4 separate regions of the Homo sapiens genome follow, and regions 1, 2 and 3 are each linked to region 4. Evidence: fine-mapped expression QTL. A gene starts in region 4. Each other region holds a variant in brackets. All regions are shown on one strand. Distances are between the middles of the regions.

What was found. PIP is the estimated chance that this variant, and not a neighbour inherited with it, causes the effect.
Region 1: its variant is the best candidate, but not a certain one, in a credible set for the expression of DPYSL2 in T cells (TOPMed, PIP 0.51).
Region 2: its variant is the best candidate, but not a certain one, in a credible set for the expression of DPYSL2 in skeletal muscle (GTEx, PIP 0.82).
Region 3: its variant is the best candidate, but not a certain one, in a credible set for the expression of DPYSL2 in whole blood (TOPMed, PIP 0.62).

Annotation. Positions count from the first base shown.
Region 1 is chr8:26,591,596-26,599,284 of GRCh38, forward strand. The region is part of intron 3 of DPYSL2 (dihydropyrimidinase like 2); the gene reads left to right. It overlaps LOC124901916 (a long non-coding RNA gene), which reads left to right. Exons shown (of 2, transcript XR_007060865.1): 2 at 1-3,734. Among named protein-coding and RNA genes, the nearest start is that of DPYSL2, 81 kb to the left of the region's middle. RefSeq lists an enhancer at 1-217 and a silencer at 430-479. The variant T/C (reference allele first, on the strand shown) is at 3,994.
Region 2 is chr8:26,635,791-26,643,479 of GRCh38, forward strand. It overlaps DPYSL2 (dihydropyrimidinase like 2), which reads left to right. Exons shown (of 14, transcript NM_001197293.3): 9 at 7,649-7,689. Among named protein-coding and RNA genes, the nearest start is that of DPYSL2, 130 kb to the left of the region's middle. RefSeq lists enhancers at 730-1,694, 1,695-2,659, 7,635-7,689. The variant A/G (reference allele first, on the strand shown) is at 4,200.
Region 3 is chr8:26,647,143-26,654,831 of GRCh38, forward strand. It overlaps DPYSL2 (dihydropyrimidinase like 2), which reads left to right. Exons shown (of 14, transcript NM_001197293.3): 11 at 488-658; 12 at 5,115-5,294; 13 at 6,090-6,255. Among named protein-coding and RNA genes, the nearest start is that of DPYSL2, 140 kb to the left of the region's middle. The variant A/G (reference allele first, on the strand shown) is at 4,679.
Region 4 is chr8:26,510,350-26,518,038 of GRCh38, forward strand. DPYSL2 (dihydropyrimidinase like 2) reads left to right here and starts at 3,682. Exons shown (of 14, transcript NM_001197293.3): 1 at 3,682-4,330. The coding sequence starts at 3,977. PNMA2 (PNMA family member 2) reads right to left here and starts at 3,523. Exons shown (of 3, transcript NM_007257.6): 1 at 3,467-3,523. RefSeq lists enhancers at 1,684-1,978, 1,765-2,637.

The DNA of each region.
Region 1 (7,689 bases), 81 kb after region 4:
CTTTAGCATTGTTGTCCCGGGGCAACCCTTTCTCATGTGAAACCTTGCGTGGAACCCCCTCCACCTGAGATATGAGACTGATGAATGCAGAACTGCTCTGGTTGGAATGGTGGGTGGCAGGTGGGCTGTGGGGGAGTCCAGATCCTCTCCGCTTTCTCTTTGTCATCCCCCCATGGCAGCCCCTCTGCCTCTGGAGAATCCCAGAGCTTGGGGAAGCACAGGATGGAAACCAACCCATCCTGGCACTGCCTCCCCCTCTGCCCACCTCCCCTGCAAAGCTTGCAATGCGATTGGTCCTGGTGTAGCCTCCGTGTTGAGTTGTAGGGGAAAGGGTGTTTAGTAAGCAGGCATATACCCACGGAGTCGCTTAAGAAAACACCTAACCACACTGTAAGTTTTTAGTAGTTTCGTTTAATATCCCTCTCTCTGTTCAAGACAGGAACCAGGGTAGAGCACCTGTTTCATTTTCCCTGCCTAGGTTTGGGTTGGTTTTCTTAGCTTTTTATGACAGCCCATAATAGGTGAGCATTCTGCCCTTTTTAAAAAAATTAATGGTGCAGAGAGTTTTATTTATTTATTTTTTAGAAACGGTGTCTCACTCTATCACCCAGGCTGTAGTGCAGTGTTGCGATCATAGCTCACTGCGGCTTTGAACTTCTAGGTTGAAACAATCCTCTTGTCCCAGTAGTTGGGACTGTAGGTGTGCACCACTACACCCGGCTAATTTTTTACTTGTTAGTAGAGATGGGGTCTTGCTATGTTGCCCAGGCTGGTCATGAACTCTTGGCCTCCGTTGATCCTCCTGCCTTGGCCTCCCAAAGTGCTGGGATTACAGGCGTGAGCCACTGTGCCTGTTTGGTACATTAGTTTTTTTTTTTTTGTTTTTTTTTTTTTATTAAGACGGAGTTTTGCTCTTGTTGCCCAGGCTAGAGTGCAATGGCGCAGTCTTGGCTCACTGCAACCTCCACCTCCCAGGTACAAGCCATTCTCCTGTCTCAGCCTCTCAAGTAGCTTGGATTACAGGCATGCACCAACATGCCCAGCTAATTTTTTTTGTATTTAGTAGAGATGGGGTTTCACCATGTTAGTCAGGCTGGTCACGAACTCCTGACCTCAGGTGATCCACCCGCCTCGGCCTCCCAAAGTGCTGGGATTACAGGCATGTCCCACTGTGCCCGGCCGGTACATTAGTTTTAAAGGGAAGATTGACTGTGGGTGGCCAAGGGATTTGTGTTTTCTGACTTAACCATCCATGGCTCTGACCCCAAGTCACCCATTAAGGGCTGTTTCTCCCTTTTTTTTTCCTCTTCCTCCCCAAGCTGACCTTTCTCTCTTCTTAAGAAGTGATTACTGATTTCTTTAGGTTTTGAGGGTTCTGTCTTTGACTCTCCGTGATTGTTGGGTGAAGCCATTTGCTTAAATTCCTTGCTTTTAGAGCGTCTTAACTGCCATGGTAATGATAAAGGGGAGTGACAGTGAGTAGAAATTAGAGTTCTTTCTGGTTAACCCATTTGGGAGGTAGCTTTCTTTGAATATGACTAAGTGTTCCCCCTAATGACAGAGAGGATGTTGCTGGGGGTTGGGTCGCGGTGGCTGAGGCTGCTGTCCAGTTAAGAGAATTTTGCAATGAACTAGGGCAGTGGTTTAAAAACCTTGACTGCACATTAGAATCCCCTGGGGAGTTGTAACAAAATGCAGAGACCAGACCTTCTGACTTAATTGTTCTAGGTGGGCCTGGCATTGGTCGTTTTGAAAGCCTCAAGGTGATAGCTGGGATTAAGAATCATGGATCCCAGTGCTTGTTCTGATAGTTGGACTTCTGTTGAAACCGAATGAATGTCTGCCAAGATTTTCCGAAACCCAGAGCTGCCCTCTGCTCCCTGCTTTGTCCTGTCCTCTTCACGAAGGGAGTGGGATCACACTGTTGCTATCTGGCCAGGGTGGAGTCTACAGCCAGATGCTCCCCAGAAGCTTAACCATGGAGGGGCTGAGCTAATTGTCACCAGAAAGAGCCTCCTCCTTCAGTTGCTGTCCTTGGTGTTCGGGAAGGTTTTACTTGGCTAATTCCCTAAAAGGGCACTGGTTAGGACTTGGAGTAAGTGGTGATGAGCAAGAGCAGGGCTGGCTGGTGGGACAGGGTGGGTGCCGGGGGCAGAGGGGAACTGGAATGTGGACTGCTGTCCCCAGCCTGTGGCCACCTGCTGTGCTGGTTTCCCTGAGAAAACCCTACTGTCTTTAGGTTGAATCTGTAGTGTTTATGACCTAATCACTCTCTAATGATAGGTCAGGACTGGAATCTTTCCTTGTGGGGAGCCTGTGAGACAAAAATCAAAAGGGCCTGATAATAACATAGAATCATGGACTCTTAAGGCAGCCATTCACCTCCTTCCCAGCCCCGCTCCCACAGCTGGGCACGGTTTATTGGACCAGGCTTCAGAGGATGGGATTGTAAGTAACTCAACAGGACAGGATGGGAGCGCTCCAAGAATCAGATCTAAGTTTAACTTCCCTTTCTAGTGCTTTCTGTCTGAGCGTGATCATCCTAATGTGTTTCTAGATGGCTATTTCCACATGTGTAAAGTGGAGACAATCAATTCTTATGTCTTACGACTATGGAAAAAGTGAGTTTTTTTGTGCCATACTATTTGAAAGTAATCATTGTGACACCTTTGGAACAAGTGTGAAAAGATCTCCCTCTCTCTCTCTCTCACACCTGTCTGTATCCATCTTTATCTTTTTATCATCTATCTCTATCTATCTATTAATATATATTTATCTATCTAGCATGACCTGGGATAGGTGAATTCTATAGCCAGGTGGCCTCCAGAAGCTTACGAAATGATCGTCTACCAAATCTACCATCTATCTATTTCCCTACCTACCTATCATTTATCTAATCTATCTATATATTGATATATATCTATCTGGTCTATATCTATCTTGATATGACATCTGTCTGTACCTATGGTCTATCATCTCTATTTAATCCATCGTCTCTATATCTATTGATTATCACTTATCTGTTTTACTTATCCTAATCTATCATTAATCTATCATCTTTCTAATCTATCTGTATATATCTATTGTTTATCTAATCTATCAATTGACCATTCATCTGTTCATCTTTCATATACCAAAGATGCAGTTGCATGCCACCTGATTCCAGATGGGTTATCTCACTTCACTGTCACTTAGTGAGATCAGGAAGAAGTCTCAAGGATTGTTTCAACTTCAAGCCTATGTACATGAGTTTGCGTTTTGAACATAGCAGGAAAAACAACGATGTATAAGAAGCTTTCTTATTGGCTGGGCATGGTGACTTATGCCTGTAATCCCAGCACTTTGGGAGATTGAGGTGGGAGGATCACTTGAAGGCGCCAGGAGTTCAAGACCAGCCTGGGCAGCAAAGTGAAGCCTTGTCTCTACCAAAATCAATCAATCAATCAATCAATCAATAACTAAAAATAAAAATAAAAAATTAGCTGGGCGTGGTGACACATACCTGTAGTCCTAGCTGCTTGGGAGGCTGAGGTAGGAGGATTGCTTGAGCCCCAGAGTTTGAGGGTGCAGTGAGCTATGATTGTGCCACTGCACTTCAGTCTGGGAGACAGTGAGACCCCATCTTAAAAAAAAAGGTATAATGTAGCTTATAGGGCTTATAATCCTGTAAGAAGACTTCTTATGCAAGAAAATAAAAATTTTACTTTTCGCTATTTTTTTTTTCCTCCTCCAAATAATCTCTGGAGAATTTGGAGCCTGATTTTCTTGACAACACATCTGGCCCTGCAGATGTAAAGCAGTGTTCCCAGAAAACAGCCCGTCAAATCAATAACTCTTGCTATCTTTGAATTTTCAGCCTTTTTTGGCATTCAAATGAGGCCAACTTTATAAGTGGCCATTGCTGTGCTGTTGAATTCAAGCCCCTCCGTTTTTCATGGTGGATTCCTTGCATTGTCTGCTAGGGGGGTTGCATTCCTCGCTGAACCAGACCTC[T/C]GCCCTCTTCCCCGCTGCCTTGCAGTTTGCTGAGCTTCCAGGCAGGGCTGCAGGGTCGTGCTGCTGGAAGTATTGGTGACAAATTCTTCCCCAGTGGGTGTTTCGGCTAAGGAAGCATTTAGTCATGTAGGGCCTACCATGCCCAGCAGTGCAGCGTGGGAGAGGCCTGGCAGAGGGCAGAGCTCTCTTCTCTCCAGCCGGGTGTGGCTGGTGGCTCCTTCCTCTTTTGTAGTGTCAAACCAAGGGATAGTATGGACCCAGCAGAACTGAAAGCAAAGGGAGGACCCATTATTAGCCAGTTCTGGCAGAGGCGAGCAGCTTCTTTGTGTGGACAGGCATATCTCATGCCTTTTTGCTTCAGCTGGGAGTTTGTTTTTTTTTTAATTACTGTTATTTATTTATTTAGTACCTTAGCTCATTAGCTGCAGAAATCACAGGGGATGAAAAAGCAGGTAGGATGGGTCCATCCTTAAAGCAAGGAGAGAGTTGAATGAGGAAACTGTCCCTGAGGCCTTGACAGATATTTTGGAGCTAACTCTGAGCCCAGTGAGGGAGGACCTAATCTTTTGGAGGAAGTGCAACTTTAGCTTCAGAGTTTTAAATGGAAACTGGGCAGAAAGCCACAGCTTGGGCACAGCATTGGTGGCGTGTTGTTGTGTCACTTTGCACAGTTAGATGGGGCTTCAGCCCTCTTTGTAGGATGAACGTTTAGGTTCTTGTCCAAACGAATACACTTCTATATCCTACTAAAAATGATTGCAGGACAGCAGTGCAAACCAGGGCTGTCCTAGGCAAACCCAGGCATCTGTCACTCTAAAGGACACAAGGACACGTGTTGAGTCCTCTTGTCCTCCAGTGAGCTCGGGAAGGGGATGACCCTAGCAGTTGCTCTCTGGACCTCTCCACAGACCTGCCGGGAGTCATGGGTAGGAGTTGTGTGATTCTGTCCTTTTCACAAGAGATGGTTAGAAGAAAGTGAGGAGTTTGGAGGGAGCAGATAATTGATATCATTTATCGGGAATCTGTGGGACGCAAGCCCTGCATACACCATTTCTAATCCTTCCATCAACCCCGAAGATAGATAGGCTTATCCTCCTGTTATAAATGAAGTAATGAGCAGTCCAGAGAAGTGAAATGACTTGCCTGAAGCCACAGAGCCTGCAAGTGCGAGGGCTGGGATTCCAATCCAAGCTCTGGGCCAATGGCCCTTGCATATCCTAGAATGCGAGAGGAACGTTTGTTTTGTAGCAGTTAGACAGCCTGCTCATGAAAGCTGCTTTGTGCCCAGCCTTGTGACAGGTGCTTTACAACAATCCCAGACACAGCACCCACCTTGAGTTTGCCCTCAGGTACAGGGCTCCTATCCATCCTGGAAGAACAGAAAGATTTTGGTGTTCAAGTTTTATCCTGCCCTTCCATCCACCTGTTATTTAAAAGTACTTTTTCTGTAATATATAGGCAGAAAATGATCAGATATCATACGTCTCCTACTAAGTGGGAGGCTGCACCCAGCATGGAAGATGCTCACCAAGACGGTGGTATATTGGGTGTCTCTTCTCTCCTACAGAAGCCCTGGGTTGATGCCCTAGATCTCCCCTTGCATCCCAGAGGGGGATTTGGAGAGCAATCAAGAGGAGTAACTGATGCCATGCATTCATCAACTGAACTTAATCCTTCTTCTGGGAGGCCCGGGAGCCTTCTTCCATGCGGGGCCAGATTGAGCTGATTTCTGTCACGTAGGCTGCTCCGAGGTTGCCTTGCCCTTGCCTGGCACTCATCTTTTGCATTTCTCTGAATCGCTTTGGCGTGGGCTTTTATGAGGTTCATTAGGCTCAGCACCTCCCATGTCTGCTTGGGAAACACCACGGGCAGATGGCATTTTTCTTTTCTTTTCTTTTTTTTTGGATACAGAGTCTCCCTCCGTTGCCTAGGCTGGAATGCAGTGGCTTGATCTCAGCTCACTGCAAGCTCCGCCTCCCAGGTTCACGCCATTCTCCTGCCTCAGCCTCCCAAGTAGCTGGGACTACAGGCGCCCGCCACCACGCCCAACTAATATTTTGTATTTTTAGTAGAGATGGGGTTTCACTGTTTTAGCCAGGATGGTCTCGATCTCCTGACCTTGTGATCCACCCGCCTCGGCCTCCCAAAGTGCTGGGATTACAGGCAAGAGCCACCGCACCTGGCCTCTTTTTTTTTTTTTTTTTTTTGAGGGGCAGAGACAAGGAGGAAGATCAGACAATTTCTCAGAGTTGGAATTGTGTTCTGGGTATTGTTTTTCTCCTTTATGGAGATAATCCAGGGAGAAACATGAAGTGTAATGGAAAGAATTTGAGGCCCAACCTTCTTGATGATGCATCTTCATGGAGCTGGGAGACCTTCGTGCCAGGGTCGACTCTGCTGCTTATTAGCTCAGGCTCGGTGCCCCACGGCTTGGTCCTGGTTTTCTGAATCGTCAGATGCACCTGGATCAGCATGTCTTGCATAATAGGGTTGCTTTGAGGATCCAGGGAGGTGGTGGCTATGGCAGGGCTTGGACAAATTACATGTATGGGGGAGTAGCCCCTTCACCCCAGTTTTGCTCCTGACCGTTGAAGCTTTTTATATTGACCCGTGGCTACTGTGGTATTCGAAGGGCTAAATTTGTTTTGTGACTTTTGCCTTCAGCAGCCATCGCATTACATCATCTACCTTTTCTTGTGTTCTTCTGTCGTCGAGAATCAATTAAAATGGTCAGCATTGCTATGAAATGGTTTATTTTTTTGTGGATGTTTTAGAGCTCCTCCTCTCCATCTCCTGAATTTCTTTTCTTGCTAAGCCTATTCAGCTCTGTTTTTTAGAGAGTTCTTTTCCCTCCTGCTCTATGAAAACGTATTTTCCATGTTAAAAAAGGAAGATCCATGTTGCTGTACTTAATGCTTCATGTTTTAGAATGTTAGTGCCAGCAGAAAGCACCAGGAGACACCCGATGTGCCCCCACCTTGGTGAGCACCTTTCCCCCCAGGCACAGTCCCTGCTTACGGGAGATTTGAGGCATTTGATCATTTTTTCCCGTTAGCTTACAGCACAAAGTACTTTGAAATAAAGATTGGCTCGCAGGGCAGGTTGAAGCTTCAACACCAAAATCTCTCTGTTCCTTGTGGGTGGATGGGAGCCTGACACCTGATTACAAGCTCCAGGTGAAGAGCAGGTTTGAGACTTACACCTTGTTTATTGCAATCTTTCTTTCATTTTGCAGGCGGTGGGGGTGGGGGAATGAAAGCCCAGAAAGGGATGTGGCACTCGGGCAGGACGGGGGCTGCTTCTGTGCCTTTTCCCCACTGTGCGTATTCTTAGCTGCGCAAGTGTCGTGCATGTGCGTTTGGCTCACACCCAGCGGGAGTGCCCTTCTTGTGAAGGAAGCTCGTTCTCTACCGAAAAGCTCACTTTTCAGAGAAGAGCTGGAGAAGGCCTGTTGTCCATCTTAGTCCTGAAATATGAGTTTTCATTCCATGGCAAGTCCTTTTAATGAAAGATGGACTGGAGAAGCTGATGCATAGAAAAGAAATAGGTTCTTTTATGTAGAGGGGGAAAGTGTCCACTCTGCGGTATTTCCTGGGTCCTGTGGCTTGTAGGCATTTGAACTGTTTTGTCTTGGTTCTGAGAGAGTCAGATGATTCAGAAGCTGTGTTCTGCTGAACATTCCTGCCTTCTTGACAG
Region 2 (7,689 bases), 130 kb after region 4:
TCATTTTATCTTTCATTTGACTCTTTCTCAGTCCCTCTGTCATTCTCTCTCTGTGTCTTTCTTTCCCTGTTAGGAAGGGAGCCATTTGACCTCTATGGCTTGGTTTCTACTTCCCTGCATCATGCAATCCACATGGATCAAGGTGGGCTGTGGGATTTTTTTCACTGGCGGGTGACTTGCTGCAAGCCCTGGAACAAATTGCTCAATGATGACTGAGTCATCTTGTCCCAGAGATGATGACTTCCAGACGGACCCAGCGACTCCTGGCCCTGGTTCTTTGGAGTGCTCCTGGGGCCTCTGTCCTTAGGCTACACATCAAATGGTTGCTGCCTTTCTGTCTTCTCCTGGCACCTTGAAGGAATTGCCTTTTAGAAATAAGAAAGCATTCACCTAAAATAATGTAACCTACTCAGAATGAGCTTTGAGTTGTTTTCTAGGAGATATTGTGGATGACGATGGAATCGGTGGCCTTGGGCCACCCAGACACGCATTTGCAAGAAGGCAGCGCATTTGTGGGAATCAGCCTCTGTACAGAAGGCCGGCCACAGCACTGCTGCCCCCACGTAGTGTGGGGATGGTTGGCATAGTGTCTGAAAGGGGGAAAGAATGAGACGGCTTATTTTCTGTATTTTACTACTGCGCTGTACCTAGATGATGATGATACGTGAGTTAGGCTAACATTTCAACGTAATTTTGGATAGAGACCTTGTCTAAAGTTTACTTCATATTCAAACCTGTCCAAATGAGAAGACGGAGGGGTCCTACATGTCCCAGACTTTAGTTGGGGGAGGTGGAGTCGTGGGCCAGCCCTGCCGCAGGCCTCCTCCTCTCTGTCCCTCAGGGTTCTTCTCAGGTGGAGTTGCGGAGCTGGAGTGTGTTGTTGCGGTGCCCAGTTTGGACCTATTACCCCAACTCAGTGCCTGGTAGCCCCCGTTGTTGTTTTTTTTAATTTATTTTATTTTATTTTTGAGATGGAGTCTCACTCTGTCGCCCAGGCAGGCGTGCAGTGGTGCCATCTCAGCTCACTGCAGTCTCCGCCTCCTGGACTCAAGCGATTCTCCCGCCTCAGCCTCCTTAGTTGCTGGGATTACAGGCGCCCCCCCATCACACCCATCTAATTTTTATATTTTTAGTAGAGACGGGGTTTCACCATGTTGACCAGGCTGGTCTGGAACTCCTGACCTCAGGTGATCTGCCCGCCTCGGTCTCCCAAAATACTGGGATTACAGGCATGAGCCACTGCACCTGGCCACCCCTATTGTCTTTATAACCTTGACACACTGTGTGTCTTATGGGGTGAGCAGTAGGAGGGGACTTTAGTCTGTTCCCTTCCAGAGCCTTCTGAGTGTGAGTCCAAATGTGCCCACACCATGGTTCCCAGGATGGCATTTGCATTCAAACTGTTACCCATTAATCTGTGAAAGCCTGAGCTTTAGACAAACCTGAGCTGCCAGAAAGGAATTTCCAGTGCATTCAGGTGCTAATGAGCAGGAATGAGAAGTCCTAGCTAACTTCCTAGGCTCTTAGGCTCTTTCCCATCTTGCTGGAACTTCCTAGCAACTTTGGGAGGCAGCCCTGGCAGGAATTTTTATATTTTGTTTTACTTTGCAGCTGAGTAAACTGAAGCTCAGAGCTCATGTATAGTGGAATTGGGGCTTGACTGTCAGGCATCTAACTTGAGGCCACAAATATCCGTGTAAATGTTTGACTGACTTACCTTCATGCTTTGAGATTATTTTAATACGGTGATGCTTGTGACCTGTGTCTGTTGGGGCTTAGTTCCTTAAGAATCCTGATTGAAACAGTGGCCTGACACCCAGCAGAGATATGGGTAATGTACACACAAGGATTCCCAAATGACCAAGAAGGAAAGCTCTGTAAGGGAGTATTAATTGTTTGCCTCCAGGATCAGTATTCATTCTTGGATCAAACCCCAGCTCCACTGTACACCAGCCACGTGATGCTGGGTGCTTCCTCATCATCTCCACATGTCCTTTTGCCATCTGCAAGGGGAGGATAGTAACCATGACTCATCTCACAGGGTGATGATGATGTGTACATGAGATATTGCAGGTAAAGATGGAGATGAGAAGCGTGACCAGTTATTGTGACTACAGGATGAAGGGGCTGGTCTAACCTTGAGCTTGCGAGGAAAGCAGAGTAAAGATGCCTGCTGACCCTGGACAAGGGTTTTCTGCTCAGAATTGTTTGTCCACTTCAGGTGGGTTCTTCTGGCCCCCTGAGGCAAGTGTGTGCACTGCCACAGCCCCCTTTCTGATGCTGCATTTCTTCCTCTGTGAATGGAGAGATTCTGAATTCATTGAATGCATTTTCATGATGTGATACTTTAGGCCTGCGTACCAGGAAAATAAATGGTCCCAACCACAGTTAGCTCCTCGACTTGCAGGGGAAGGATGCTGAGTGGAAAGTCACATTGGGAGGTAGTCGGGGCTACAAAAGGGGTACAAGTCAGGAGAGGTTGAGCCCAGAAGGGAGTCTCAGAGAGGTCAGGCTGCGTAAGCAGACTCGAAATTTTGCTATAAATGTGAGCTTTGAAAAATGATAATCCTGCCCTGGGAGGAGTAGTAATGTCTCCTTCTCTTAGTGATCCACATGAACCTCCCCAGCCAAGACCTGCTGGTCCAGAATCTAAGACAAGAGAAGTTCGGGGAAGTGAGGATATGAGGTGAAACGAATGAGAACTGTTTTCACGTGCCTGCTTGAGCCAGCACGACTGCATCCTGCCTTCCCTGAGAGACACGCTGAGAGACACGCTGCTTCCATCAGCCGCTCTGTGGCTGTTCAGCAGGATGGCGTGTTCAGCCGGGGAGTGGTGTGTCATCAACCCAATTTGGCAGCTGAGGCAATGAACACAGAGCCAGGACCAGACGACCTGGGGGCATTTTTACTCTTGAAAAGAACTTAGACATTGATCAACTTAATAGGCTCATTTCATGGAAGAAGTAGAAATGCAGAAATTGAAAATCTTGCCCTGGTTCATGTAGCCTGTGGGAATTAGAAACCATGATTCCAGGCTCCTGGCCACCTCTCTTTCCATGGAGGGCCCCTTGTGGGGATTTCTTCTCTAGAATGGGCTCCCTCTGACCACATTTTGTCCATGTGTGAAATCCAGCATGACTGCTGATGCCTTCCATGTGTGAGTGGTGGCCGTGGGCAGTGCCTGATGACCTCATCTGATGGACATTCTTTTCCGTCCTCCTCCTCACCCCTCTCCCATAACCCGGGTGCAGAAACATTCAGGACATTAAACCCTGGGAACCTCAATTTGAGATAAGACCTCTTATGTCCTGTGGGTCAATAGGAGTGACTCAAACGTTATGAGAAGCACATGGTCGCAGGGCCTGTGAGGACCACCTCAGCTTGGGGATGAGTCCTTAGTTAAGCTTATGCTTGATGTTGCAATCTTGAACAGAAAAGGGGGATGAGAGAGGAGAGAGGACAGTAGAGAAAGGGGGAAGATTTATTTTAAAGAATTATATTTAAGGAATCAACTCACACGATTGTGGGGATGGCAAGTCTGAAATCTGCAGATCAGGCCACAGACTGGAGAACCAAGGAAGAGCTGATGTTGGCATCGGAGTCCAAAGGCAGAATTCCTTCCCAATCTATGCCCTCACTTTTAACGGCAGATGGTCTGCAAGGTTGGGAATTCAATTTGCATTGTAATTCAGCCACTGCCAGGATGAGATCCTACTTCTGGTTTTCAGCCATCTCAGCTCTGCATCTATGGGACATAAGGGCAGACATAGAAACTTTTGATTCATTCATGTGGTGCTTGAGCTGGGAATTTGAATCCCTGAATTCATTCTTCTTTTTTCCCCCACTTTGTCTAGTACAATTAGGAGCAACCAACCACTCTCGTTATACTTGTTAATTTTACAAAAATGTTTAAGGTATCTGCTACACACCCACCTAGAACCTTGCCTCTTAGAAGCCTTTGGGAGTATTTAATAATATTTTCTGTGTCTCTATTGTCCCATCATGCCCTGTACTCTCCTCTTTTTACTACTGGACGTAGAATCATTAGTGCCTTTCAACCCAATCAGATCTGAGAACGAATTTCAGAAACCTCAGAACCCATTCAGAAAACTCATTTTTAAGATGATGTTCTTCTAGAACCACTCTTGCTACGAAAACCTGACAGCACAGTCCCCAGGCTGTTTGTTAGGGTCTGGCAT[A/G]AATTCTTGGAAAGGCAAAGGAGAATGGTGAGAGCGTGTGTAACTGTCTGTCTGTCTGTCCATCCCAGTTGGTTTTCACTGTGCTTTGGTGGCTGCATATGGAGCTACAGATACTGATTTCCCACAGTTCCCACTTTGGATTTGTTCTCCTGCTTCTCGTCCATGGGAAATGACTGCCAGAGCTGGGAGCTATCAAGCATATTTAAACCGCAGCCTTCCATTTATTCTTCATGAATGCACACGGGCCCCAGACTGGTTGTAAATAAGCACCAGCTCCCATCCCCTGCAGTTCTTGGCCTTATAGAGAGCCTGCCAGAGGCTGGCTTGGTCACATCCTTCAGTTTAGACTTTACCTGGAGAAGAAAATCACAAAGGTCTAACGGGCACCCAGATAGCATCAGCAGTGTATTTAGAGAAGTGCAGAAGGGCCAATTAAGCCCATTTCGTGGTTTATTATTATTAGTGGTAATTATTTCTGGCATGCAGTTCAAGGGTGTCTGTGGCCTGGCTGAGCTCCGGAAGTGCATCCACAGCACCCTCCTGTGAATGTTTATAGACCCAGGAGGGGAGCCCTGGGTTGGGAGCTCCAGACCACTGGGGATGGGAGGCAGAGACTCTATGTATAGATCATACTCTTGTGGAGGTAGAGGCCTGGAACATGATGGCTAAACTCCTGTCGCTGATTCTGGGCTAAGAAAGAAAGAAAATCCAAAAGACAGCAAGGACCTCTGAATCCCTGAGGGAAGTTGAACAGAGCAAAGTAGAAATGAACCACAGGATGGCTCCATCCCTCCCCTGGCATCCACTGCCCCTGCCCCTGAATGTCCCTATCTTTGCTTAGCTGTGGCCCAGAAGTCCACTCAGCCTTTGTCTAAAGAGGCAGGTTCTGCTCAGCAGTGGCGTTGAGAGCTCAGACCCCATTTTGGGTTTTCTAGAGGCAGAAGGCCAAGTTCATTCTCTTGAAGTGAGGTAGATATTCCTGTGCACAGAGAGAAGGGGAATCCAGCTCCTCATAGAGCAGCTCCCCACCCCAAGCTGAGTTGTGTTTCGCAGGGAGAGATAAGCCTGTGGTCAGCAGCATTCATCCCCATGGTATTCAGGCCACTTTCCAAGAACCAGCCCCTCCTTGTACTTAAGTTTCTAGAGGCAGGGCCGAGGAGCAGGCACAGGGAGAGGATGAGCGTCGGCAAGTTACAGGAAACTCAGGAAAATGTTTATGTGTGTCCAGGGATTTTCAGAGACTATCCAGCCATTCTTTATCTCCAAGTGCCTCTGCTCTCATGAACTTCTTCATGTGGACAAAAGCAGGAAGCCTTTAGGGCCACGCATCTCTTGTTTTCCTGTGACTTACACAGCCCTCACCTTTGTGCTTAGATGGACTGTGGCCAGCGGGACCTCCAGGCCTGGCTGGGTCAGGAGAGTTTTGCTTAACCAGATCTGTTTGATCCTTGAACCAAAAGCGGGGAGCCAGAGAGATCCTTTGAGAACTGATGACTGCTGCTGGGTCCTGCCCAGCCATTTGCATTTTATAAAGGTCTTTGGCAGCGGCCAAGGCCTTCTCATTATGTGGTGTTTTTCCACTTCGGGATGAACCGGAGTGGTTTGTGCAGCCACCTGATAGCTCTTTGCACCAGCTTCTGCATGGGAGACTTTGAGCAGGCCAGGAGCCAAGGGGACCCTCCTAGGCCTTCCGAGCACCTAGCACTGGCCCTTTTCTTCCTTGGGGCTTCCTTCTGGAGGAGGTTTCCCTGGGTTTGGAGTCCTCCCTCCTGCTGGGGGTGGGGGCGTGGTTGCTGGTGGCCTGGAGTGAGCTGCCTGCTGTGGCCTCCAGCACTCCCCAGCTGAACAGCGAGTCCTTTGTGAAATTCCTGAGGCAGGAGGGGGCAGCTGTGCAGAGCCAGCTCTCAGAGTGGCCGACAGGGAGGGTGTTGTGGTGTATCATCAAGTGATAAGGCCTTCGGAAAGGCTGTGGAGAGGAAGGAAAACACATTCCTGACTGTGGTGTGTTTGCCCTTGAGGGCCCTGTGTTTGGGGAAGTAGAGAAGCTTGGCTGCATTGTTGTGGGGTGGGAGTTAGCCCTGTGCTGGGGGGAGCTAGTGAGAGATGAATTCAGCTGACCTGGGATCAAATTCCAGCTTGGATGCCTTTAATTAATAACATATTAGACCATTTAATCAATTTAACACACGTTTTTGGAGTGCCTACTATGTGCAGGCAGGTAAATGATCTTCAAGGTGTCTCCATCAGGTGGAAAGTCAAAAATTCAGAACTGGGCAATGACTGGAGGGGAGGATGGGATTCTCAGGTGAAGGGTGTGAGACCCGAGTTGTGTTTTGGACGATGTTAAAGGAGGAGATCAGCTTCCAGTAGTGAAGAGCATCTGATGCTTTGGTGAGGAGGATTTTCTTTTAAGTCCTTGAATGCAGAAGGGCTCCTTTGGAAGATTTTATGCAAGAGAATGCCATGGAAAGATTATATTATAGTGGATCACTCTGGAAGTGTCATGCGGAATGAATGGAGAGGTAGGAAGCGGGGTTGGGAGAGCAAACGTAAATCTAAGGTCCAATTGGGAGGCTCTGTTGGAATGAGCTGGCGAGAGATGATGAGGGCCTGATTTAAGGAACGATTGTATTGAAGGCACTAAGGTATTGGCATTCAGCGAATGTACATGAGTCTCAACTTTCTGGTTTACATCTGAATGGACAGAGAAGAGGACATGATCTGAGCATCAGGGAGTTGATGTTTGTCTTGGACATTGCATTAATATAGTTAGGCTAGGCTTCCAGAAACTCTGAAATCCCAGTGGCATAATGTCCAGTTTGTTTCTCTCTCACAGAGTCAGCTGTGAAGATGGTGGCTGTAACGGACAGCTTCTTCCAGGCAGTGACTCAGGGATCCAGGCTGTCTCTTGAGGATATCTGGGGGGTTATGTATTTGCCCTGAAATACTTCGCCCTGGTGATGTCATGTGTGATTTCCTCCCGCAGACCTTTAGTCAGAGCTAGACACTGTGAAGGGCTAGGAATTGTGAAAAGATTGTGTGAATGAACAGGAAGGTTAAATTTGAGGTGCCATAGGCCATGCATAAAGAACAGTCCAGATGGCACCTGGGACCGGATGCCTGGACACCATCCGAGCAGGAGATTAATGGAATTGAAAATCAGCAACGTAGGAGACAGAAGCCTTCAGGATGTCTGGGATCCTATAGGGAGGGTGTGTTGTTTGAAGAGCAGGGGCTGAAGGTGGAATCTTGGGGAGCTCATGACAGGCTGGCAGAGGTACTGAATTTCTCCAAGTCTCAGTTTCCTCATCTGCGAGATGAGCCTGATATTTCCTATAAAGGGATAGTGAGTGCACTGGGTGCTGCTGGGCAGGCAGTGGCTCCTCATAGGGGTGGTTCCCTTCCCCCTGCATTGTGTTGGACTGAACCTTGTGTGTTCTGTTTGTCAGGAACTGTGGTGTATGGCGAGCCCATCACTGCCAGCTTGGGA
Region 3 (7,689 bases), 140 kb after region 4:
TTGCAAAGATAGTACAGAGAGAGGTCCCGGGTACCCTTCACCCAGTTTCCCTCATGGTTACATCTTATATAAATGTAGAACAATATCAAAACCAGGACACTGACAGTGTCACAATGTGTGGGTATAGCTCTAGGCTGTGTGGCCACCTGTGGAGTCATGTGACCATCACCACAATCAAGATGCAGGTCTAGTCCAGCATTTCAGAGACCAACCTCTTGCTGCTCCTCCCCTCCACCCTCCCTAACCCTGGAAGAACCCATCTAGCCCCTCATCTGTTCTCCATCTCTACCATTTTGTTATTTGGAGAATGTTATAGAAATGGAGTCATACAGTGTGTGACCTTTGAGACGGTTTGTGTTTCACTTGGCACAACGCTCTTGACATCCATCTAAGCTGTCGTGTGTATCAATAGTTTGTTATTGAAAAGTAACTTTTTAACTCGTTTCTGCTGTGTGCCTCCTGTGCACACCTATGCTGTCTCCCTCAGGTCACTGGGAAGATGGATGAGAACCAGTTTGTGGCTGTGACCAGCACCAATGCAGCCAAAGTCTTCAACCTTTACCCCCGGAAAGGCCGCATTGCTGTGGGATCCGATGCCGACCTGGTCATCTGGGACCCCGACAGCGTTAAAACCATCTCTGCCAAGACACACAACAGCGTAAGACCTGTTAACTGTGCAGACCCCATCCAAACGAATTACAGTCACAGAGACACAGACGGAGGGAGAGCCCCAGGGTTTCTAAAAAGAACTTGCTGTGATGGGAATGCGCTCGACTGAGGATGTTATGATTTGCAATTTGCTGGGAAAAGAATAGTTATTTCATTTTCTTTAGTGAGGTCAATAAGATTGTTACTCTCATAATCATTTTGGAATACCACAGCCTCTCTATCTATAGACCTTTAGAGCCTCTAAAGTGATGTCAGGATGTGCAAAGCTTCCAGAAGTCAGGCACCGCTCCATTTTCATAGGTTGGCACAGCACTTCTCATGGCAGTACTTGGTGCAAGGGACCTCAATGAAGCAGTGAGATGTCCTCTCCTGAGATGCCCACTGGGGACTTTGATCCTCTTAAGCCATTGTTTTCTCAGGCCAGTATCCATGCAGAAAACTGGATGACAGCCATTCTTATTATCTTAAAGGAATTGATTGACTGACTTCTCCCTAACAGAAGTACCCCCCAGCCATTTGATTGTTGTTTTAGGATCTGCCGCTTTGGGTATCTCTTCCCTCTGGGTCTGGGCTTTAGAGCTTAGAGATGTCCTCTCTTGTTAACAGGACCCAGGGCAAGTCTGTTAATGTCTTACGCTCCTCAGCTGAGAGTGAGGGGTTCAGACGAGGTCTCCAAGTGTCCTGTGATTCTGTGAGGTCAGCAGACATTAAGCAGAGTTGTTAGACACTGCCGATTCCTCACAAGCAACATGGTATAGGCAGAAAAACTGAAGGAATATGCCCAGAGGGAGAGCTTTGGAAAAGAAATGGGCCTCGGGCAGAAGAGTTTCGTGTCAGGAACTCATTTGAATCTTGAAGACAGCTCAGGCCAGCAAGCACTGACACCTCCCCCACACACCACGACAGCTTAGGGCAGGTTTCTGGCATTTCTCCGGGACAACCCTGGGACTTTGCCCTGTCCCAGTCCTCTCTCATTTGCACACACAGAGGTGTTTGGGCTGCAATGGGCTCAGGCTCAGCTCTGGCTTCTGCCACCTGTGAGGACCAGGGTGGTGGGTGTTTCTCAGAAGACTGTTCAAGTCTGTGTTTAAAGCTGTCTTTCTCCCTCTCCCACCACCACTCACTGGCTCAGCCTGGCAGCGCAGCCTTATGATCGCGCCCCTTACAGCCCAGATCATGACTTCTTGGGTGTCCTGACTGGCTATTTTATGGTCAGGGATCCTAGGGCCCTGCCCCATGAACCTCCCTATTCATGTGCCTGTAACTTCACATTCTCATTGACTCTTTCATTTGACCTTCTCAATAAAGGGACTGGTATTATTATCCCAATTTGGGAAAATAAATAAACGGAGGCTTAGAGAGCTTAAGTGACCAGTCTAATGTTACATAGCGATTTTGCGGTTGAGCCAGAATTAGAACCCAAAATTGTTCAGGACTCTTCCCTGCCAGACTGCATATGCAGCCTCTTGGTCAGGCTTAGACGGGGAAAATGCTTCCCCTCTCTTGCAAGGTTGCTTCCCCCAGAGGTGCTATAAATGGCTGGCTGGGCTCGTTATTTAAGACACAAATGACCTAGCTGGGGAACTTGCATTTGGAGTTCTTAACCTAGAAGACGAGACAGTGGGAAGGAGAGAAGATTTGGGAAGACAGATTCTGCCCTCCAGACATTTTCACCCCAACCTACCCTGCTTTTACCTCCAGGTGACCTATGGAAGAAATGTTGACTTTCAAAGCGGTGCTTTTCCATCCCCACCTGTTTTAAAGAGCCAGCACTAAGCATGTGCCTGTTCGTTCATCTTCTGGGAAAATGCAACCAGGAGACTTTCCCTGCATAGTACAGTGTTTCCTACCATGAGGCTAATTAGCTTTAGTTCAGAGCATCTAGCTAACTATTATCGACAGCCCTGTTGCTAAGCCTTTGCTTGGATTTTCCAGGCATCTGGCCCGATGAGTAATTTTAGGGAGCCTGTGTGGATGTAGGTTAAAAATGTCTATGCATGGTGAGTGAGGAAGCCTCCCTGCATCATGGTTTGATGGAGAGTAGGCTCTGAGTATCTGGGAATTGTGATCTGACCCTTGGACTTGTCAATGTTAAGTCACTGAGAGTCATGGGGCTGGTTCTTCCATCTTTTAAAAATGATAGATGGCCCCAGAGGTCTTCTAGGTGCTCATTTATAAGCAACAAGACTCAACGCATGCATTGTGTGAGATCTTGGATGCTGCAGGGCTGGCAAGTGTTAGCAAAGTGCAATAAAGAGCCAGACAGTGAATGAGTGAAGATTTTCTAAATGCCTACTGTGAGCCAAATAGTGAGCTAGATGCTTTTGTTCATTTTATTTCATTTGATTCTCACATGAGTCCTGCAAAGGGGGACCTACTTACCCCTCACAGATGAGGAGGTGGAGGCTCAGGGGTGTGAGGGATGCATCCAAAGTCACATAGCTGGTGAATGGCATACCTGGGGTGTGAACCCAGGGCAGATGTCTCCATGGCCGAGGCTGCGCCCATACTCTACCCAGTAGGGCACAAGAGGAGGTTGTCAGGGCATAAACTGTTAGCTGTGGAGTGATGTGGAAGAGATGGCTCTTGATCCAGGCCTTAAAGGATGACTCACACCCTTTCAAAGGTTGTTTCTGAGATGACCAGGGATGAGGCTTTTTGTATTGTCATCTTCACATACACCTCGGGAGGGTGCAGATGAAGAAACTGAAGCTGAGACAGGATTAAAGCAATCTCCCCAGAGTCACACAACTTCTGGATTTTACCGTATCTGAGATGCCATCGATTTTAAGATATTCCATTAGGTTATGTACCACGATGAAAGAAAACATGCCCAAGACGAGGAGTCTCATAGGAGACTGGGCCACCAAGGGCCAGCGTGTGCTTATTATGGCATCTCTGGGGAGACCATCTGCTGTGCAGACAGGGGTGGCAGAAAATCTCGCAGGCCTCGACCTTGGCATTGGTTGCCAAGAGGGAAAAATGTCTCCCCCAAGAATTGGAACTGGAAGTGGGTGCTTGTCCAGCCTTGTGGTCTGAATGCATGCCGCCTGTGTGGTCCAGAACAATGTCAAGCTGAGAATTTACTGTAAAATGCCCTCAGTGGGGTTGTCCCCCAACCCAGTGGCACAAACAAACCCATATCCCCCTAGAAGAACTTGGATTTAGTCTAGGCTGGCAGTACCCGCGTGGCTCCGGCTGCTATAAGACACATTCTGACTTCAGGGATGAGTGTCTTAGAATTGATGAAAGACAATTTTAAGTCTTGGGTCTCAGTAATCCAAGTGCAGAGTCCTCTTCCCTCCCTGCTGGCGCCTCTCTGCTATGGTTCCTTTGGTAGCTTCTGCATGACTGCTTTGAGACTCAGAGCAATGTACTGACAGCCCTCGTGGTTGTTTTCACCCAACATTGTATGCGGGGCATTGTGCATTTACATGCCTGATGTGAGCTGCTGAGCTGGCCGAATCCGTGTTACCAGCCGCTGCACTAAGCAGAAATGTCATCTTGAACTGCAGGGTGCTAGCACAGCTCTCTGTTCAGAGGCCAGCTCCCTGAGTGCTGATAACCTGGTCTGAACTTTCCCAGAAGCCCAGGGTGCTTTTTATGGTTGGAGCAACCTATTAATCCTCTAGTCCAGACTCAGCCACAGCCATTGGTCCCCGTGAACCAAACAGGCAGGAAGAAGCGGGAGGCATTTGGGATCTGGGAAGTAGCACTGGGTTAGCAGAAGCTGCAGGATGGAATGACTCCTGTGCAATGACTCCTGTGTTCTGTTGCTTCATTACCAACCACAAACTCACATCCATATGGAGACCCCACCTATTTTCCAAGAGGGCACACAGATATGTCTCTGTTTTACCCGGAAAAACTTGAAACCAGAAGGATAGCTACATAGCTACATTGTTCTGGAAATTAACTAGCCCTCAATCATTTTATCGGAGGCATGTCTCTTCAGTGACCACAATCCTTTCATTTAGGGACTTCAGTTTAACCACACCGCAAACAGACT[A/G]GAAAACCAGGCTAGCCAGTGGGAAAACCTACTTGTGGATGGCTCATTTCAAGATTAAATTTAGAACTTGGTCAGAGAAGGCCTTTGGAATTCAACCGGAATGGAGCTGGAGATGGTGGGAACACAGTCTCTGTTAATAGGAAGAATCATTTTCTTTATATTTGTGTAGCATTTACAAACATGCACCCTTTTCACACAATTATTCTGTTTAATTATTTTTCTTTCTAATGTGGAGAGGTAGAAAAAGTTATTTCATATTCTAGACAGGGAAATGGAGACACAGCAAGTAAGTGCCTGCTGGGGTGCCCAGTTGGGACAGGATCCCTGTCTCTGAGTCTCTCTTTTGTCTCTGTGGGGTTGGGGCAGTGGGTGCTGCCGGGTGGATTGAGTCCAGCCAGAGTGGCCTGTTCTAGAGTTTACTTTGCCTTCTTCTCAGTCTCTCGAGTACAACATCTTTGAAGGCATGGAGTGCCGCGGCTCCCCACTGGTGGTCATCAGCCAGGGGAAGATTGTCCTGGAGGACGGCACCCTGCATGTCACCGAAGGCTCTGGACGCTACATTCCCCGGAAGCCCTTCCCTGATTTTGTTTACAAGCGTATCAAGGCAAGGAGCAGGGTGAGTAGTTTTGTTCTGATGAATTTTTTGTTAAATCACGAATTAAGTTCAAGGCCACAAACATTTATTAAGCACCTTGAGACAGAATATTAAGATGAATTTAGTGGATTCCAGGGATAAGAGGGAGCCTGAATTTTTTATTCCTGGCATTTAAAATACTGGAGAAGGAGTCAGTCGTGTCCACAGAGAGCCCTAGCAAAGTGAGATCATGGTATATGCTATGATAAGGAGTGTGGAGTAAGGACCCAGAGGAGGGAGCCACTGCTGTAGTTGGGGAGAGTGTCATGGGGAGAGGACATTTTGAGTTGGGCTTTGAAGGTTAAGTAGGAGTTTGTCAAGTCAAAGAAGGGAGATGAGGGAATTTGATAAGAGTATCATGAGCATAGAAAATGTACAGTGTATTCAGGGCATGTGAAGCAGGAAAGAGATGGAGCTATAAGGGAATTAAAAGGAGAGAATGCAATTGGAAAGAAAGTTTGGGGCCAGATCTTGAACATGATACCAGATCCGCCTCACAGCATGCTTAGGGGATTCTTACAGGGTTTAAAGTTGAAGTGTCTTGGGGGAAAAATTGTAAGGTGTGTTAGTTTTTGTAGAGTTAACCAGTTACTGGACCTTGTGGGGAGTTTTGGCCTGGCATGGTGGGAGCTGGCCCCACACAACACCTGTCCACCTGTCTGTAAGGAGAGCCCTCCATCCCTAGATCTCACAGGCCCATCCTCCCTCCAGGAGGGTTTCTAGAGAGGTATCCTCTGTGGCTGTGGCCTGAGCTGGGGGGACTCTTGTGTTTTGCAGCTGGCTGAGCTGAGAGGGGTTCCTCGTGGCCTGTATGACGGACCTGTGTGTGAAGTGTCTGTGACGCCCAAGACAGTCACTCCAGCCTCCTCGGCCAAGACGTCTCCTGCCAAGCAGCAGGCCCCACCTGTCCGGAACCTGCACCAGTCTGGATTCAGTTTGTCTGGTAGGGTTGGGGCTTGGGGAGGGCACAGTTCTGCAGGGCCAGCTCGCTGGTGCTGGCGAGGCTACAGTTGCATTTGGAAAGGACACAGAAATAGAAGTGAATGATATTCCCTTTCTCTCCAACGTGAGAAATACAGTGGACTCAGATCTCTGGAGATGTATTTTCTTTTTCTTTTTTTTGAGGCAGGGTCTCGCTCTGTTACCCAGACTGGAGTGCAATGGCACGACCTTGGCTCACTGCAACCTCCACCTCCTGGTTCAAGTGATTCTCATGTCTCAGCCTCCCAAGTAGCTGGGATTACAGGCATGCACCACCATACCTGGCTAATTTTTGTATTTTTAGTAGAGACGGAGTATCACCATGTTGGCCAGGCTGATAGAACTCCTGACTTCAGGTGATCTGCCCGCCTCGGCCTCCCAAAGTGCTGGGATTACAGGTGTGAGCCACCGGGCCCAGCCTAGCTTGGCCTGGAGATGTATTTTCATAGTTAATGACTGGTTGGGTTTCAGAATCTTGAGATCAGTTTGTGTCACACAATGCCCATACTGTGTTTTACCTAATATATTAAGAAGACATTTGTTCAATTTATTAGGTCCATCATAAGAAAGGACACTGTGGTATTTCAGGACTTCTCTTCTCTCCTACAGTATATTGTAGTTTAGCTTGTGGAGTTTGGAGTTTCAACAGCCTAACTTCAGGGCTCAGCTCTGGCTGTGCTTCAGTCTCCTCACCTGTATAATGGCAATAATAGTAGTTGCTCCCCCGTGAGGTTGTTGTGAGGGTTAAATGGGTTAATATATATGTACAGTGCTTAGAATGGGGCCATTTGAGAACTGTTAGTTGTATTTGCTTGGGTAATTTGTGTGATATCCCCTTGGTGAGAGGAAAGGGTTCAGATTTTTAAGTTTCCTTGCTTGAAACTTCTTTCCCATCTTTCATTTGTCCCATGACTAGAACATTCCACTCTTCCAGCTCCCTGGGCCACAGATTCCTATGGCGTATTAAAGAAATTGTTAAACCAGAGAGAATTTTTTTTCTTGGTGGTTGTATGGGTTTTTAGAAAGTAACCTATGTCCCATATATGGATTACCAGTTTTCAAAACATTTAAAAATAAGGAACTTTACTTTGTTGTAAGTAAAACGTGTATAATCATGTCTGTGTTTTCTGATCTCTCAAAGCTGTTCCAATATAAGGTGCCATCGTTCCTCCTACTTGTGATTATATGTGTAGGATTAGGGGATTAGAATGCCAGAAGAGGGCTATGTCCTCAGAAAAGCCACAGCCAATTTGACTAATCAGAACAGGGGACAGGACAGAGTCTAAGATGTAGTGATATTTTGTATATAGTTTTACTTTCTCCAGTAATAGATCCAACAACCTTTATACAGTGTCTGATTCTTTGGTTACCTTAGGCTCATCTCCTTTTTAAAAAG
Region 4 (7,689 bases):
TCTTTATAAATTATCCAGCCTCAGGTATTCCTTTATAGCAACACAAAATAGACTAAGACAATAAGTTACTAACACAACACTCTCCAAGCATTTGTTTCTGTTTCTGTTTTTTGAGACAGGGTCTCACTCTGTTGCCGAGGCTGGAATGCAGTGGTGTAAACACGGCTCACTGTAGTAGCCTTGATCTCTCCTGGGCTCAAGCAATCCTCCCACCTCGACCTCCTGAGTACCTGGGACCACAGGCACATGCCACCATGCCTGGCTAGTTTTTTAAATTTTGTGTAGAGACGCAGTCTCCTTACGTTGTTCAGCCTGGTCTCAAACTCCTGGGCTCAAGCAATCCTCCCGCCACAGCCTCTCACAGTGCTGAATTACACACTTGAATCACCACACCCAGCCTTTCCTAACATTTGAACTTTAACCCATCATTTGAGAAAAAAGAAAAAAGGAGGAAGCACACCTATCAAGGATTTTGTTCTGGAGAACCTGTGAGGATTAGAGAACGTAAAAAAGTTAGAGTTGGCCAGGCGTGGTGACTCATGCCTGTAATCCCAGCACTTTGGGAAGCCAAGGCGGGTAGATCACTGAGGTCAGGAATTCGAAACCAGCCTGGCCAACATGGCCAAACCCCGTCTCTACCAAAAATACAAAAATTATCTGGGTGTGGTGGCACGTGCCTGTAATCCCAGCTACTTGGGAGGCTGAGGCAGGAGAATCGCTTAAACCTGGGAGACGGAAGTTGCAGTGAGCCACGATTGCACCACTGCACTCTAACCTGAGTAACAGAGCAAGACTCTGTCTCAAAAAAAAAAAAAAAAAAAGTTAGAGTTCCTAATACCTCCCAGTTACTGCTGCGGAGTGTGTGTTAAGGGGCTACAACCATTTCCCCCTTGGCCTAAACATCTTCATCAATTCGAATGGGGGCCATACGCCACAGTGCTGTCCTGTAACTCTATCAGCAGTGCTCCTGCTGTGGGAAGATCTCCTGAGTCTTCTGGGAAGTGCTGAAGGCACCAGGGGTGCCAGAGAGCCAGGAGGGCAAAATGCTGCTTCACCCCTGTGCCCAGGAGCCCCAGAGACCTGAGACTGCTGACTTCTCCATGCCTGACTTTTCCTTTCTAAAATGTGGGGACTGTGGGGGAGGGCCAGGTGCAGTGGCTTACACCTGTAAACCCAGCACTTTGGGAGGCCAAAGCGGGAGGATCACTTGAGCCCAGGAGTTTGAGACCAGCAACATAGTGCGACCCTGTCTCTACAAAAAGGAAAAATAAAAAAATTAGCTGGGCGTGTGGCACTCGCCTGTAGTCCCAACTACTTGGGAGGCTGAGGAGGGAGGACTGCTTGAGCCGAGTGGGTCAAGGCTACAGTGAGTTGCGTTTGCACCATTGCATTCCAGCCTGGGTGACAGTGTGAGACTCTGTCTGAAAACAAAAACAAAAATAAAAAAACCAGCTGGGGGCAACCTTCCTCCCCACTGGGATATTTAGAGGAAACAGGGAATGTAAAAAGACACTGCCCAGGAAAAAGCATCTCTATGGTCTACAGAATGACTGCTATGCTGAAGTTAGGCTATCTTCAGATGACTCTTCCTCCCAGTGTGACCTGCAGTGTTACCTTCAAATAAAAACATGGCAAGAAACACCCTTGATATACAATAGGGCCATGGATGGAAATATCTGGATACGGTAGAAATAGAAGAACCTTGTATTTTCTCACATAAAGGGGGTCACAGGACAAGCTGGAAAAGAAGCCAGACTTTGAGGTGGAAGACTCCCACTGGAATTGCTGGATCATTTAACTAAATACCCAACCTTGGCTATGCGCCCCAAGCTCTCTAAATCTGTTTCCTAACCTGGAAAGCAGTGCTGATAAGGCACGCATCTCACAGTGGGGCTGTGAGTAGGAAATGATGTAATTCAGTTGGAAGCGCTTTTTTCAAATGCTTTATTCAAATGCAAAGCACATCTGCCGCTAAGTCCAAAATGCCCCCTCCGGTTCTCTCAGCCCCTCCACTCCTATATTCTTCTTCCCCAGTCTGTTTCTCATCCGGAGACGCCTTTCCACCTATCAAGATGGGCTGATCTTCAAATTGCGACTGATTGTCCAGCAGATGTAACTATATTCACCAAACTATCTCTCACAATTGGACTGTGGGGGTGGTTGGTAACCGCATTTAATCCTGGGCTGACAATGGGACTGGATCCCTGGTTACACGGCCCTACGCGGTGGCCCTGCGGTAAACGGCCTCTCAGCCCAAACCCACCCTGGTTACTGAGCATGCCCAGAACTCCCTCCCGGGCCACCAAAGGAGGGGCACCATTTCTGCAGGATTTTGCCACTGTGGAAAGAGAGGCGGAGCTGTCATCGCGCAGAGGCAGGGACTGATACGCGGAAAGGACGTGGAGATGGGAATAAGCAATGAAGGACCAGCATTGACCGTGTTAGGCACACAAATCTAATTGCCCCCTGGTTACTTACCAACCCGGTGGCCGTGGCTCAGCTACTGCACACACACACCAAGTTCCTACACACCTTTCCCCTGCTTGGCCCCACACAATTCATGGCACTCACAGCCCACATCCTACCTCCTACTCCGCACCAGATGCGCACCCGCACTTACTCCCCAAACACGTGGCATCTGGTAACCCGGGAAACGCTGCGACTGTGGCGCAGTGCGCAACAGGGGCGGGGGAACCAGGCGGGGCTCTGGGGCGCAGGGGAAAGCTGGAGATTTGGGAAGGGGGTTTCAGTTTGTTTTTTCTCTCTTTTTTTTTTTTTTTTTTTTTTTTTGGTGGAGGAAGCAGAATAAACCAAATCGCGACACGTTCCTGCGCCCTTCTTGGCGCAGTGGCGCAGACACGGTCCATGGCGCCTTGCGCAATAGAGTCGGTCTGCACCCCGTCTTTAAGTCGTGGCCCTGGGCTGGAATTCCCGACTGCACTCTTTGCTACACCCCCATAGACCGCAGACCTGCGTCTCTCTCTATATTCCTCTCCCATCTGCTACGCCCCTCTGAATTTCTTCCCGCCATGTTGTGTGCCCCCCCCCCACTCCCCCGTCACCCCAACCACACCAAAGTGGATGCACGAAGCGGGAACCTTCTCGTTTCAGTCTCTGCTCCCTGCAGCCTGCCAAGGCGAGTGGACAAACTGAAGCTGGGGTGTCCAGCGTCTTGGCTGCCCCCCTCCTGTCCACCCTGCCTGTGCTATCCTTGCTCATCTTCAGTGCCATCCCGCTTCCCACACCCTGAGTAGCCTGGCGCCCGGCTTGTCCCCTTTTCCCATCCATCAGCTCACACCCAGGGTAACGGGGCGGGACCCCTATCCACAGTGCGCCCTCGCCCCCGGCCCACCTCCGCCATGCGGCGGGGCAGAGGCGCCTGGGCCAGGCAGGTGGAGGAGAGGGGCACTGGGGCTGGGGGCTGCGTCCTCCGGTCCTCACTCCGCGTGCCCTGCCCGATACTTACCCAGGCGCGGAGAGCGGTCAGCGGGCCCTCCGCTCCGCATCCATTAGCTGGTGGTCTGGCCGCTTCACTTCCGGAGCGCGGGGCTAGGGGCGGTGCCGCCCTCCCCTCTCTCTCTCCTTCCCTCCCCTCCAGCCCTCCCCTGAGCACCGCTCCCCTCCCCGGCGCCGCGCCCCGCCCGCGCCTCCCTCCTCCCAGCGCTGCCGGGAACTGGCAGCCTTTCGGCTCCCGCAGCCGCAGCGGACGCCCTCCCAGATCCAACTTTGCCGCTTCCCCGAGCTCGCGCTGTAGCCGCGGGGGGCGTGGGCAGGGAGGGGAGAAGCGGGGTCAGGGGGAGGGACCGGGAGGGTGGGTCGCCGGCTCGCCAGCCCTCCTTCCTTTCTGTGCACCTTGCGGTGGGCGGCGAACGGCAGCCGCGGCAGCAGCTAGGGGGCTTGTGCACACAGCGAGGGAGACTTAGGGACTGGCAGACGGACGGACGGACGGCGAGGACCCTACCCGAGCCCCCGAGCCATGGCCGAGAGAAAGCAATCCGGGAAGGCGGCAGAGGACGAAGAGGTCCCTGCTTTTTTTAAAAACCTGGGCTCCGGCAGCCCCAAGCCCCGGCAGAAATTCTGTGGCATGTTCTGCCCGGTGGAAGGGTCCTCGGAGAACAAGACCATCGACTTCGACTCGCTGTCGGTGGGCCGGGGCTCGGGGCAGGTGGTGGCTCAGCAGCGGGACGTCGCCCACTTGGGCCCGGACCCGCAGCCGCCGTACTCGCGGCAGGGCCGGCGCGCCGGCGGAGAGCCATCTGTTGAATCGGGCCGGAAGGTGGAGATCCGGAGGGCCTCGGGCAAAGAAGCCCTGCAGAACATCAACGACCAGGTCGGTGTGGGGGTTGGGGGTGGAGACGGAGGACGGGGCGCGGGGATCGCCCCTCCCTCGCCCCTGAGCCCGGCGCGCCCGCCTTCATGCCCCGCCCTGGACCTCGCCTCCCGCATCTGCACGCGCACCCCGCCCTACCCGCCCCTTCTCCGCGCAGGGTGCGGCGAGGCTCGGGCTGGGCGGTGGGCGGCCGTGCGCCCACAAAGGCTGCCCGCGTCTCCTTGAGCTTGAGAGGTGGGGCGTGGGCATAGGGAATGGGCTGATCCCCTGCTGGGGCGGGCGGTGGTCGTCTGGGAGGGGGTTGGCCGCGGTTCCATTCTTCTGAAACCCTCCCGGGCGGCTTCCGATTGCAGCTGCGGCTGGGTGCCCCACCCTTTTTTTGAGCGGCTCAGAGCGTGCGGTGGAGGCTTTGCGTGAAGGCCCGCGGCTCCCCGGTGGTCGGGAGGGGCGGGGGTTCGGACGGCCGCTCCCTACAGCCTCCGCCCGCGCCTTCTGCGCTCACGTCCCGAGCTCCGAGGCCAGGACCATGGTCAGCGCCCCCCGGACCCCCTCCGAGCACCGCACCGCCCTTGACTCCTGCTCGCAGCGTGAGAAGAGCCAGGAAGGCTGTGGAGTCACCCGAGGAAACCGAGACGCTCCTAAATAGCCTATGTGGGGAACAAAGTTCCAATAAGTGTCTCAGCCGGGGCTTCACAGAGCGCTCCCCAAACCGCTATGTGGGAGGCGCTTTAGGAAGCGGGGAACTAAGTGGATTATGTTCAAAGGGTCAAAAAGACAAGAAAAGGGGGAAAACCCCTCGCACTCGAAATAGACTGTCGAAGAAGACTAAACCCCCTTTTATTGTGTTAATGGGGGAAACAAAGGCCAATTTGGTCACGCTTGATTTTAGAAAATGTTTGTCACTTTCTGACAAATATGAACAGTGAGCATTTTCAGCGCAGTAATAATCTCACACCACAATTCTTTCTTTATCTGAGTGATCCTTACACTAGTGTAATTCTTTTCCACAGCCTTAATTTCTTAACTGATAATTTACAATGCAAAATGTTTTAACACGTTTTCCGTTTCTCTCCCATGCCTGCTGGTAAAAATAATAAGTCAATCAATGAATGATTGTTGATTGAATACCTATTGTGCGCCTTGCCTTGTAGGGCAGAGGGAAGGTTAGTTATAGAAAGTGCAAGAGGTTTCTTCTTCTCAGAGGGCTTCCAGAGTAGTTGGGAGTGGTCTATACATATTCAGCGAGGGATTCCACAAGCATTTACATTTGTGTACTTACAGTGACAGCCTTTGAGAACAATTCAGAATTGGTGATGATGGTTGGGGCATGATTTGACTGTTTGCTGATGTGACATAGAGTTTTGCAGCTTTTGACTTTTGTAGGGTCAAGTCTAGGAAAAACAAGGCATTTGCTGTCATTTGTAAAAGGTGACACAACTAATAATTTATATCCAACCCCAGCCCTGCCCTCTAATTTATTCATATAAGGGAGTGTCTCATATCCATATTTCACTATGAGTCAACCAGAAGAAACTAAATCCAAAAAACTTGCTTTGTTCCAAGTGATCAGACAATTGAAGTAAAAGTTTCTAATAATGTAACTTATACTGAAAGCTGAGTGAGTGTGTGTGAAACACTTCCCTGTGTGAGTACATTGAGTGAGGGCCAAAATCATATAGCATCTTGGTTGAGTGAGTAGCCTCATGCATGGCGAGTTGTGCTGGTGATTGTGATGTCCTAGAGAAAGCAGAAAAACAACTGGAGAATAAAGAAGAAATCATGTAAAAAGTGGCAGATCAGAGGATAGGGGTTGAAAGTGGCCCACCCCTATCATGAATTAGAACTCAAGTTTGAAAGGCATAGTTTTATCGGGTTGAATAACACTTCTTTTTTCTTGGCCATTTAGAAGCTTAGATATATGAAATTCTAAATTGTAAAACTAAGGCACGCAGAGGGGGAGATTTGAAGAGAAAATACTCAAACAAACTGCAAGGGAGTTTTAGATTGCAATTCACATTGATTTCAGTTGCCCAGTTATTAGTAACAGAGGGCGATTCTAGCTTGGCCTTTCTGCAGCACCTTCCCCTGAATTTTCATGTTTAATCTTGCCTTATCATATAAGGCCTACTCAATGAGATTTTGTCATTCACGACTAAGAGCATTTACCTGGATCAGTACTTGCAATGTTTCAATATTTCATGTCTTTAGAAAAGGGGAAAGGCTGTGGCTATACATGTGTTTATATTTATAACAATGTGACTTCCGAAAAGCTCAACTGGCCCACCATTTTGACTGAGTTGACTTGTCATTAGTTGGTTTTCAACGAATGAGTTGGGTGAGTGCCAGCATCTCTGTGCATTCTAATTGGAAGCCCTGACGCAGAGAAAGGTGGGGGAGATTGAGAATGGGTGGATCCTGGGACCCTGACTCACACCATCCCTCCTCTCTTGCAGCTTTATTTATGTGTTACTAATGTATGGTCAGATGTGGCTTTGCTCATCTGTTGCACTAAGAGGCCTGCTGTTCCCCTAACAAGGCTTTGGGAAGGGAGAGAATAGGCTTCCTTGACCCACATGCCACATGGCTCATGGAAGATGAGAGATGTTGGACATGTGCATTTGCAGGAACTAAATGAAATTATATTCAGAGTATGAGCCAGACAGCACCAGAAAGCGATGGGTGTGGCTTGACTCGGCATGTCAGATTTTGGCGGAGGAAAAGAGCTGGCATAGTGGTTGTGAATGAGGAAAGCCTCTATCTTGTTACTCTCTTTTTCCTATAAGTCCACTTTGGGCTTCAGTGAGGTTACATTGATCACCACTGTGAAAGACTCTGAGCCTCTTGGAAGAGAGAGAAGAAAGGCATCTCTGTTGGCCCAATCCCCCCTTGTCAGTGCCCAGGGGTCCTTCAGCCTCTTCCCTTCCTCCTAGGAACTTCCTCCATTCCACTCCAGACACAGCGTAGCCAGAACCAGTGGCTCCACCAGCAATACTGGACCATAAGAATGCTTTTCAAAGGGGCCTCTAGGCCCTTTTCCCAGCAGCAAACAACCTATGCAGGCTGGAGTGACAGGGAGTGATTCTCCTCCTCTCCAGGGCAGGTGCCGCTGAATGAACTGCACAGTGCTGCTGAGCTTGGCAATGTTACTGAGTCTGTGAAGTGCTTTCTGGTGCTCCCTTCCATCTGGGTCCCCATCCCTTCTGCCTGTGTTGAATCTCTTCTGGCCCTGGGAGCCCAGTGCTGTGCTGCCCTCTAACTGTACAACGTCATCCCTACTCCATCCCCATAGCATGCCCCTTCTAGACCTTTCTTCTTCCAAAGGGCAACAGGTTCTAAAATCAGTCTTGGCTTCCCTTCTC